3 separate regions of the Homo sapiens genome follow, and regions 1 and 3 are each linked to region 2. The links come from fine-mapping of genetic effects on gene expression. A gene starts in region 2. Each other region holds a variant in brackets. All regions are shown on one strand. Distances are from middle to middle. Region 1 has its middle 17 kb from the start of SCARB2. Region 2 holds the start of G3BP2 (G3BP stress granule assembly factor 2). Region 3 overlaps CDKL2 (cyclin dependent kinase like 2).

The links. PIP is the estimated chance that this variant, and not a neighbour inherited with it, causes the effect.
Region 1: its variant is fine-mapped to the expression of G3BP2 in cerebellum (GTEx, PIP above 0.99).
Region 3: its variant is fine-mapped to the expression of G3BP2 in whole blood (INTERVAL, PIP above 0.99).

The regions. Positions count from the first base shown.
Region 1 is chr4:76,229,875-76,232,639 of GRCh38, forward strand. It overlaps a transcript of SCARB2 not described here and a transcript of FAM47E not described here. Among named protein-coding and RNA genes, the nearest start is that of SCARB2, 17 kb to the left of the region's middle. The variant A/G (reference allele first, on the strand shown) is at 1,605.
Region 2 is chr4:75,672,273-75,675,037 of GRCh38, forward strand. It overlaps G3BP2 (G3BP stress granule assembly factor 2), which reads right to left and starts at 1,139. Exons shown (of 12, transcript NM_203505.3): 1 at 936-1,139. RefSeq lists enhancers at 19-996, 429-668, 949-1,238, 1,975-2,765.
Region 3 is chr4:75,608,681-75,611,445 of GRCh38, forward strand. The region is part of intron 3 of CDKL2 (cyclin dependent kinase like 2); the gene reads right to left. Among named protein-coding and RNA genes, the nearest start is that of CDKL2, 20 kb to the right of the region's middle. The variant A/G (reference allele first, on the strand shown) is at 1,222.

The DNA.
Region 1 (2,765 bases), 560 kb after region 2:
TGCAGGCAGTGAAATTAGGTGTTGTTTTCTCCTCCCTTGGAGCAGGGTTATTCTGTCATTAATTGCTATTATGTCCTGAGGTGGATGATCTCCAGCCAGGAGGTGGTGCTTTCAAGAGAGCACCAGCTACGATAGTAGAATGGGGATATAAGCTTGCCCTAAGTTGGCCAGGATATGTATTTGGGTTTCTCAGGTAATGGTCAGGGCCATGAAGCTCCCAAAAGTTTATGTCTTTTGTGATTGGCTATTGGGATGGGTAGAGAAAAACCATGAGGTGGGTGCAGGGTTAGACAAGTCTGAGCTCAGACTCTCCTTGGGCAGGGCTTGCTATGGCCACTGTAGGGGATGCTGGGTGGTTCTTGGGCTAATGGGGTTATGTTCCAGAGGGGATTATGGCCACCTCTCTCACTAAGAAAGTGGGGGAAAGCCAGTAACAATAGGCCTAACTCAACTCCCACACAGCTGGTGAGGCTGGTCTTGCTCGCTCTGTGCCCTCCTAACAGTGGCAAATTAATCTCCAGGAAGCCCAGGGAGAACTCAGACCTTGCCCCAGGCTATAAGCTTCCCTGCTGAGAAAGCAAGCATCACTTTCAGGCCTCACCTGCCCCTCCCTGTCTGCCCACACGATGGGCCATGGCTCCTGTGCTTCTTTCTGCAGCAGTTCCTGTTCAACACCTGGATTCTGCTCAAGAGAGTTTATGCCCAATAAAATTATTATAAAGTTCAGTTTGAAGCTTCCCTTCTCTTCCTAGCAGATATCTGGGGTATGTGAGAGAGAGAGGAAAGAGCGTCCTCTTTCCCTCTTCTGTCCTTCCATCCCCGAGTCCAGGCGACCTTGGCAGTCACCACCATAGGTGTTAAAATGACTTACACTCATGAAGCAGGGGGTTTAGGGGGTGAAAATCTGCCATTCTTACCCACATATGCCCTATCTCCCTTATTGTCAGTAGCCTTGAATTCCCTAGACCTCATTTATGCCATGGACACTAACGTGGCCTTTATCCATCAAACAGGAAGCTTGGGCATGGCTTAATTGGCAGGAATCAGCCACGATCACCTGTGCTGTGCCTTTTAACCTCTGTTGTTGTCTACCTCTGGATCCCTTAGATCCAGTTTTCTTTCCTAGGGCTTTGACCCAAAGCTTGGAATTGAGTTTGGAACAAAAATGTGTCTCAGGGGAGTTGCATGGACTCCCTATCATAAGCTGCATGCTAAGGTGAAACCGTAGAACTGAGTCCTCCTCCAATAAGGGAGAGGAAAGGATGTCTTGTGACACACCCAGATGACTGATAGCTATAGTTATGCTTGCTAAGATTTGGGTGCATGATGCTTGGCTTTTGTTAGCTCCCTTGGTCTTATTTTCCCAAAGGAAATGTCCAAGTGATGGGCATCCTATTCATTCCCATCACCTGGCAGGGTTTTCAGGATAATTCCTCAGAATTAGAATGTTGATCCAGATTTTCACATTACCCATCCCTCTTGTTCTTTCTGAGCTGCAGCTGGAGACTGCCGGTTGGTTCACAGGAACAAGTAGGATTAGTCTTAAAATGTAGGTAAAAACTTAAAAACAACTAGTGAGTTTAGAATTTAATGACAAATATATG[A/G]TAGGTTTTGAAACACGATTTCTCACTCGCCAGTCCTCATTTTTGTTAAAAACAAACAAACAAACAAATCATGACAGGACTGAGTTGTTTGCAAAATAGACTTTACATTTTTATACTTGGCCTGATTATTTGCATAAAGTACAGCAAGAATTATTATTTCCGCAAAGGCCTTTCGGATTGGCTTCGATGGAAGTTTGTTCCACAAGGAATCAGATAAGACCTTTTAAAGCTGAGCCCAGGCATGGGTTTATCCTCAAATACCTGTGAGTTTGGTGATCCTCTCCTCTTAAGGTTCCAAGATAAACTTGGAGTTCCTGGACCTGTTAAAAGTGGCATTCTTTACTGACCATAGGAACCCTGTGCAGGGACTGTGTAAACAAGGGTATGAGGCCAGTTTCCCCACTGGGATTTTATTGGCGCTGCAAGTCAAGATTGACTCCTTAAAGGAAAGCATACCCTTCCAGTCAAAGACTTGGTAAAGTAACCAGTTTTTCCAATTGTGTCCCGTTGCAAGAGAGAAGTGGATTCCTATTGCACTGATGTAAACAACTATATTGCCATAAGTTATGAATACTCACAGATAGTTTTCAAATTTTAGAGGAACCAGGCAGAGAGAAACAAACATGCTTCAAATTTTGGTTACAGAAGTATACCTTGCTTAATTATTAAAGGCCATAAATAGTTCAAAATAAGTTTCCTTGACTCTGAGAAACAAAACAAGGATGAGCAATATTCCAAGCAAAAGTCAAAAAGATTGCTTTAGTTTTCTGAGTTCAGTCCATTTAGTTAATTCTTGCTTTGGTTGATATTCGTGAACATTTCAGCTCTTCATGAGTCCTGTACATTTTCCTTTATTCCAATGTCACAATCTCCAAAGTTATCAGAAGCCTGTATTTGAGAGCACCTGTTACAGTTCTACGGCTTATTCTAAATCATCTCTTGAAAAGGATTAAAACAAGACAACAATTGTCTCTGAATAGCAAAAATGTCCAGGGTAGTTACACTTGGAAACACAATTGACAAAGGAGTTTGGTTTTCTCTGTGGTTTACAATAAGTTAACATAACAACCTTAATTATGATTGGTAGCATAACTTAGACATTAGAATTTTAGAAAGTCCCATACAGTTTTGGAACATGTATTAATATTACTCACAAAAATA
Region 2 (2,765 bases):
CGAAAATCTATATTCGCCCCAAAGCGGCAAAGGGCCATCTTAAGAAATCTGCTTTTAGAGACGCAGGAAAAATTCTATCAGATTCCACTAACAAAATCAACACAATCTAGGGAAGCTTCTGTTCCTTTCTGTCCCCCCATCCCAACAAAAGCGGGAACCCATCCCCCAAAAGCCATTCCCGAGTCAATAAGGGATCGTCTGCATAAGAGGGGGACGAAGAAGGCGCACGTTACAGTTCCAGTATCCGAACACGTTCGGATTAAACCCGCGGTGGCAGGGAGAGGGGGGTTGGTCAAACACGACGGAACACTAGGTACTGGGTAAGCGAAGCGGCGGCTGCCTTCAAACCCGGATTCTGTTTCCGTGCACAGAAATGGTGCCCGGAGGCCGCCACTTTCGCATCTGCGTCGCTTCTGCCTCCGTCGACACAACCTCTTTTCCCCTCCCCCCACGGGCGGGGTGGCGACGGCCTCTCCGCTCCGAAGGAACAAGGTACAAGAGCCGAAAACGATTCGGAAACAGGAACGGTGGGCTACCCACCCTAAAACATCCCCTCCAGAAAGCCTGCTCCCACACTTCCTGTATTAAGCTTCCATCAGCGCGCCTTCGGGAGCTGCTGCGTGCCTCCCCCCCCACTTCGCCACCTCATCCCCAATAAACCTCAACCCCACCTGTGCACTCGGAGCCCTCTGCCCGCAAGACGCTCGCGGGTCACCTCCCTTCCCAGGCGGCCTCCCACCCCTCACCTAGAGGAAAGACTGGTCTTCTCTCACGCACACACGGCACCGTAGGGAGCCGGCAAGAACAATGTCTCTGCCGCTACACCTCCGGCTCCCGGGCTCACACACCGGACGATTGCCTCGCGCCGCGGAGCGCGAATGGAATGTCCCTTTCCGACCACCACACCGACCTCCCCTCCCGGCGCCCGTACACACCTCCAGCCAACGGCGGCGGCGGGTACGTCGCGCGGAGGTCAGAAGAGTCGCTGAGGACCGGGTGCGGCGGGTTCTTATTGCTCGCCGCCCCCTTCCTCCGACAACTCGGAAGCCTCGGAAGCCGGAGAGCCGCGAGTTCGTCTGCCTCACAACCACCTCTTCCCGGGCGCCAGGCGCTGCGACGTGCGACAAGGACCACGGACGTCCCGCCCCCTTTGCCACCGCCCCCTCTTATTGTTTTACCCCTGCCGAAAGGGCCAGGGAACCCCCGAGCACAGCGTCAGCCAATCACGCATCTCCTCCAGAGCCGGACCCAACCTTCCCGTGTCCCTCTGCGGAGCACGCGCAGTACGCTGCCGCGCTCGCACACGCTCGCGCCCGGAAAGCCGGGGAACCGGAACCGGCCTAAAGCCAAGATAAGAGTCCGCTGATTTGACGTCACAAGCAGGCTGCCTTTCTCCGGTCCCGAGGCTCCAGCCTTGCCGCCCTTCTTCCTGATCGCGCAAGCGAGAGCTGGTTCGCAGCAACGCAGTGTCTTTTGTAGACTGATATTCTGGTCCTTTTTATTAATGGGAAGGAGGGAATTTAGTAATCTCTCTGAATAGGTGTCTGCAGGTTGCTGCTGTAGACGAGCTTAAAATGCAGCCGGTGATTTCAGCTGTTTGCACACTAAACTCACCTACATTGTTTACTTAACCCATCCTAGGTTTTAAGCCCCATTAAGAGGCCCTGCAGTAAAGGAAGAACATGACGTGGGCTTTACAGAGGGGGAAAAGACTATTTCTTTGTGTCCTTGTTACGAATTTAGGCATGGCTAAATATCAGTAGATACTAAAGCATTTTACATACTAAAGCTAAAAGAAGGCCTGAAATACAAGGATTACAGTCCTGTTCTAGCTCTAAGCCCAGACTTGCCCCCAGGGTGAGACACTGGTGACCTTGTTTCATGGACAAAGCCAAGCCAAATCTTGTAGTCAAGGAAGCCACTTTGCATCTTAGGTCTGGCAGTGTTTTCAGAGAATACCGAGATAGCACAGGAATTTTGGAATGAAGGACTGAGGAAGTGTTCAAAGAAACGGAAAGGAAAAAATACATTAATGAATGCTTACGAACTAAACATGGTGGACGCAAGCATGTACATCTCATCAGTTTTCTTCGCAATCCTGTAAGGGCAATTTTAAGGTATTTGGCATGTTAAGACAATACGTCAAATACCTTAAATATTGGCAGAGGCAATGCCAACATTAGGGCCTCCAAAGTCTACAATATCTTTACCTTTAGACTGCTTAAAGATACTGTTATATGCAAAATATTTGGGCAGACCATCACTTTAATGAAATCAACCTGATGTTTTTCCTTAAAGCATCAAAATACATTACATGCCGGCTGTCCTTTAATATACTGGGCTTATATACCAGGCATTCTTGTAATTATACAGCCTTCTGAGCCTCACAGTAACCCTATGAGCTAGTTGCTATATGTATGTACATATATATATATATATATATATATTTTTTTTTTTTTTTTTTTTTTAAGATGGAGTCTCTCTGTGTCGCCCAGGCTGGAGTGCAATGGCACGGTCTTGGCTCACTGCAACCTCCGCCTCCCGGGTTCAAGCGGTTCTCCTGCCTCAGGCTCCCTAGTAGCTGGGACTACAGGCGCATGCCACCACACCCAACTAATTTTTATATTTTTAGTAGAGACGAGGTTTCACTATGTTGGCCAGGCTGGTCTCGAACACACCTGACCTCGTGATCCGCCCGCCTTGGCCTCCTAAAGTGTTGGGATTACAGGCGTGAGCCACCGCACCCGGCCAGTAGTTGCTATTTT
Region 3 (2,765 bases), 64 kb before region 2:
GTTTAGAAATACAATAAATCAAAAATCAATAGGCCGCACGCAGTGGCTCAAGCCTGTAATCCCAGCACTTTGGGAGGCCGAGGCAGGCAGATCACTTGAGGTCAGGAGTTCAAGACCAGCCTGGCCAACTTGGTGAAACCTTGTCTTTACTAAAATACAAAAAAGTAGCTGGGCGTGCTGGCACGCGCTTGTAATCCCAGCTACTTGAGTGGTTGAGGCAGGAGAATTGCTTGTACCCAGGAGGTGGAGGTTGCAGTGAGCCAAGATCGCACCACTGTATTCCAGCCTGGGCAACAGAGCGAGACTCCATCTCAAGAAAAAAAAAAAAAAAGAAAAGAAAGAAATAGAATTTAGAAGAGTCGTAGATATTTTGTAGATATTTTGTTTGAACCTGAGAATTTAAAAGAATGGTGGTTTCATTTTCAAAATTAGAAAAGCCTAGAGAAAGTTAGTTTTAATGGAATAATTAGTTTAGTTTTAATCATTGGACTTTTGGGTGGAATGCTGAGCACCCAAGTATAGACATTCATCAGGCAATTAGAAATGTAAAGAGTAAACAAAAACATTAGTGATTAAAATTTCTAAAGGAGAGACTTTGTAAGAATAAAACAGGATGCTGATATTCAGATAATATTTAAAAATCTGGCCAGGTGCGGTGGCTCACGCCTGTAATCCCAGCACTTTGGGAGGTTGAGGTGGGTGGATCATGAGGTCAGGAGTTTGAGACCAGCCTGGCCAACATGGTGAAACCCCGTCCCTAGTCAAAATACAAAAATTAGCCAGGCACTATGGCAGGCACCTGTAATCCCAGCTACTTGGGAGGCTCAGGCAGGAGAATCTCTTGAACCTAGGAGGGGGAAGGTTGCAGTGAGCCGAGATTGCGCCATTGCACTCCAGCCTGGGCGACAGAGACTCCATCTCAAAAAATATATATATAAAAAATATTATATAGATATATATCATATATGATATATTATATATATAATATATATATATTTAAAAATCTACAGCTAGGCAAAAGACATTATTAGGCCTAATTCTCTAATATAAGCAAATTGTATTTTGAAAACTAAAAAAGATAGATTTGTTTTAACTCTTTCGGAAGACCAGCATCCTAAACGGCAATCTGCCATTGCTGAGCACGTTGTATAGGCTACCAACTTTATTACCCTAGATATCAGTGATGAGGACACAGGTCCAGTCTCAGACCACCTGTGCTGT[A/G]GTAGAAAGAGCTAAACTGGGGCCGGGTGCGGTGGCTCACACCTGTAATCCCAGCACTTTGGGAGACCGAGGCGGGTGGATCACGAGGTCAGGAGATCGAGACATCCTGGCTAATATAGTGAAACCCCGTCTCTACCAAAAATACAAAAAATTAGCCAGGCGTGGTGGCAGGCGCCTGTAGTCCCAGCTACTCGGGAGGCTGAGGCAGGGAGAATGGCGTGAACCTGGGAGGCGGAGCTTGCAGTGAGCCGAAATCGAGCCACTGCACTCCATCCTGGGCGACAGAGCGAGCCTCCATCTCAAAAAAAAAAAGAAAAAGAAAAAAAGAAAGAGCTAAACTGGGAGTCGGGAGACCTGGGTCTAGTCCCTGGTTTTCAGTACAGCCATAGACAACTCAATCTTTCTAAGTCTATCCTCTCGGCCCACAAATGAGAGGGCTAAAGTGCATGATCACCATGTTTCTTCCCAACTCTAATACCTTATAACTTAAGTAACACAATAGATTCTAAGTATAACCAAGATGATATGAGTTGAATTTTTCCTAAAATCCATCATTGCAGACTGGGGTGGCCAGAGAAAGTACTATGAAAAGGGTAGGCTCTGACATGGGTCTTTAATACTAGATATAACCTAAATAAATTATGATACCTAGTAATTTCAGTAAAAAAAGTCGTTTAGGGTTCTACAAACCTCATAATGTTCTGTACTATTTGGGTCAAACTTCAATGGGCAGCAATCTTAAATTTGTTTTTAAATATGTTATTCAGTCTGGCTCATAAAGGATTAAAATCATATTTATATTTTAAAAAATTCAAGTGCTCACATATATAGATACATTTAAAAATGAATAATATATTTGAGAATAAATGTTCTCATTTTCTTAAAGTCAAGCATCTCATCCTTATGTGTACATATATGTGTTTATATATATGTATGTATGTATGTATATATCTGTGTGTTTTATTCCAGCCACTACCGTTATTATCTGTCTACATTAAAAAGAGAAATGTTAACTGCCCAGAAAACAAAACCTTAAAATATACCTTTAATAATAATGGTAATAATAGCTGACACTTGAATACTTATGTGTCAGGCACTATTCTAAATGTTTTTCATGTTTTAACTTATTTTATTCTCATAATAACCCTAAGGATAGGTGCTATTATTATCTCCATTTAACTAGGGGCTGGGAGTAAGGATTGGAGAAAAGGTACTAGGGTTTGAGAAGAAAGAGGGTAAGAAATCACAATCTAGAAGAGTTTAAGAGTAAATGGAGGCTGGGCACAGTGGCACACGCCTGTAATCCCAGCACTTTGGGAGGCCGAGGTGGGCCGATCACTTGAGGCCAAAAGTTCAAGACCAGCCTGGCCAACATGGCGAAACCCCATCTCTACTAAAAATACAAAAATTAGCCAGGCATGGTGGTGCACACCGGTAATCCCAGCTACTTGAGAGGCTGAGGCAGGAGAACCGCTTGAACCCAGGAGGCAGAGGTTGCAGTGAGCCAAGATCGTGCCACTGCACTCTAGCATGGGTGACAGAGT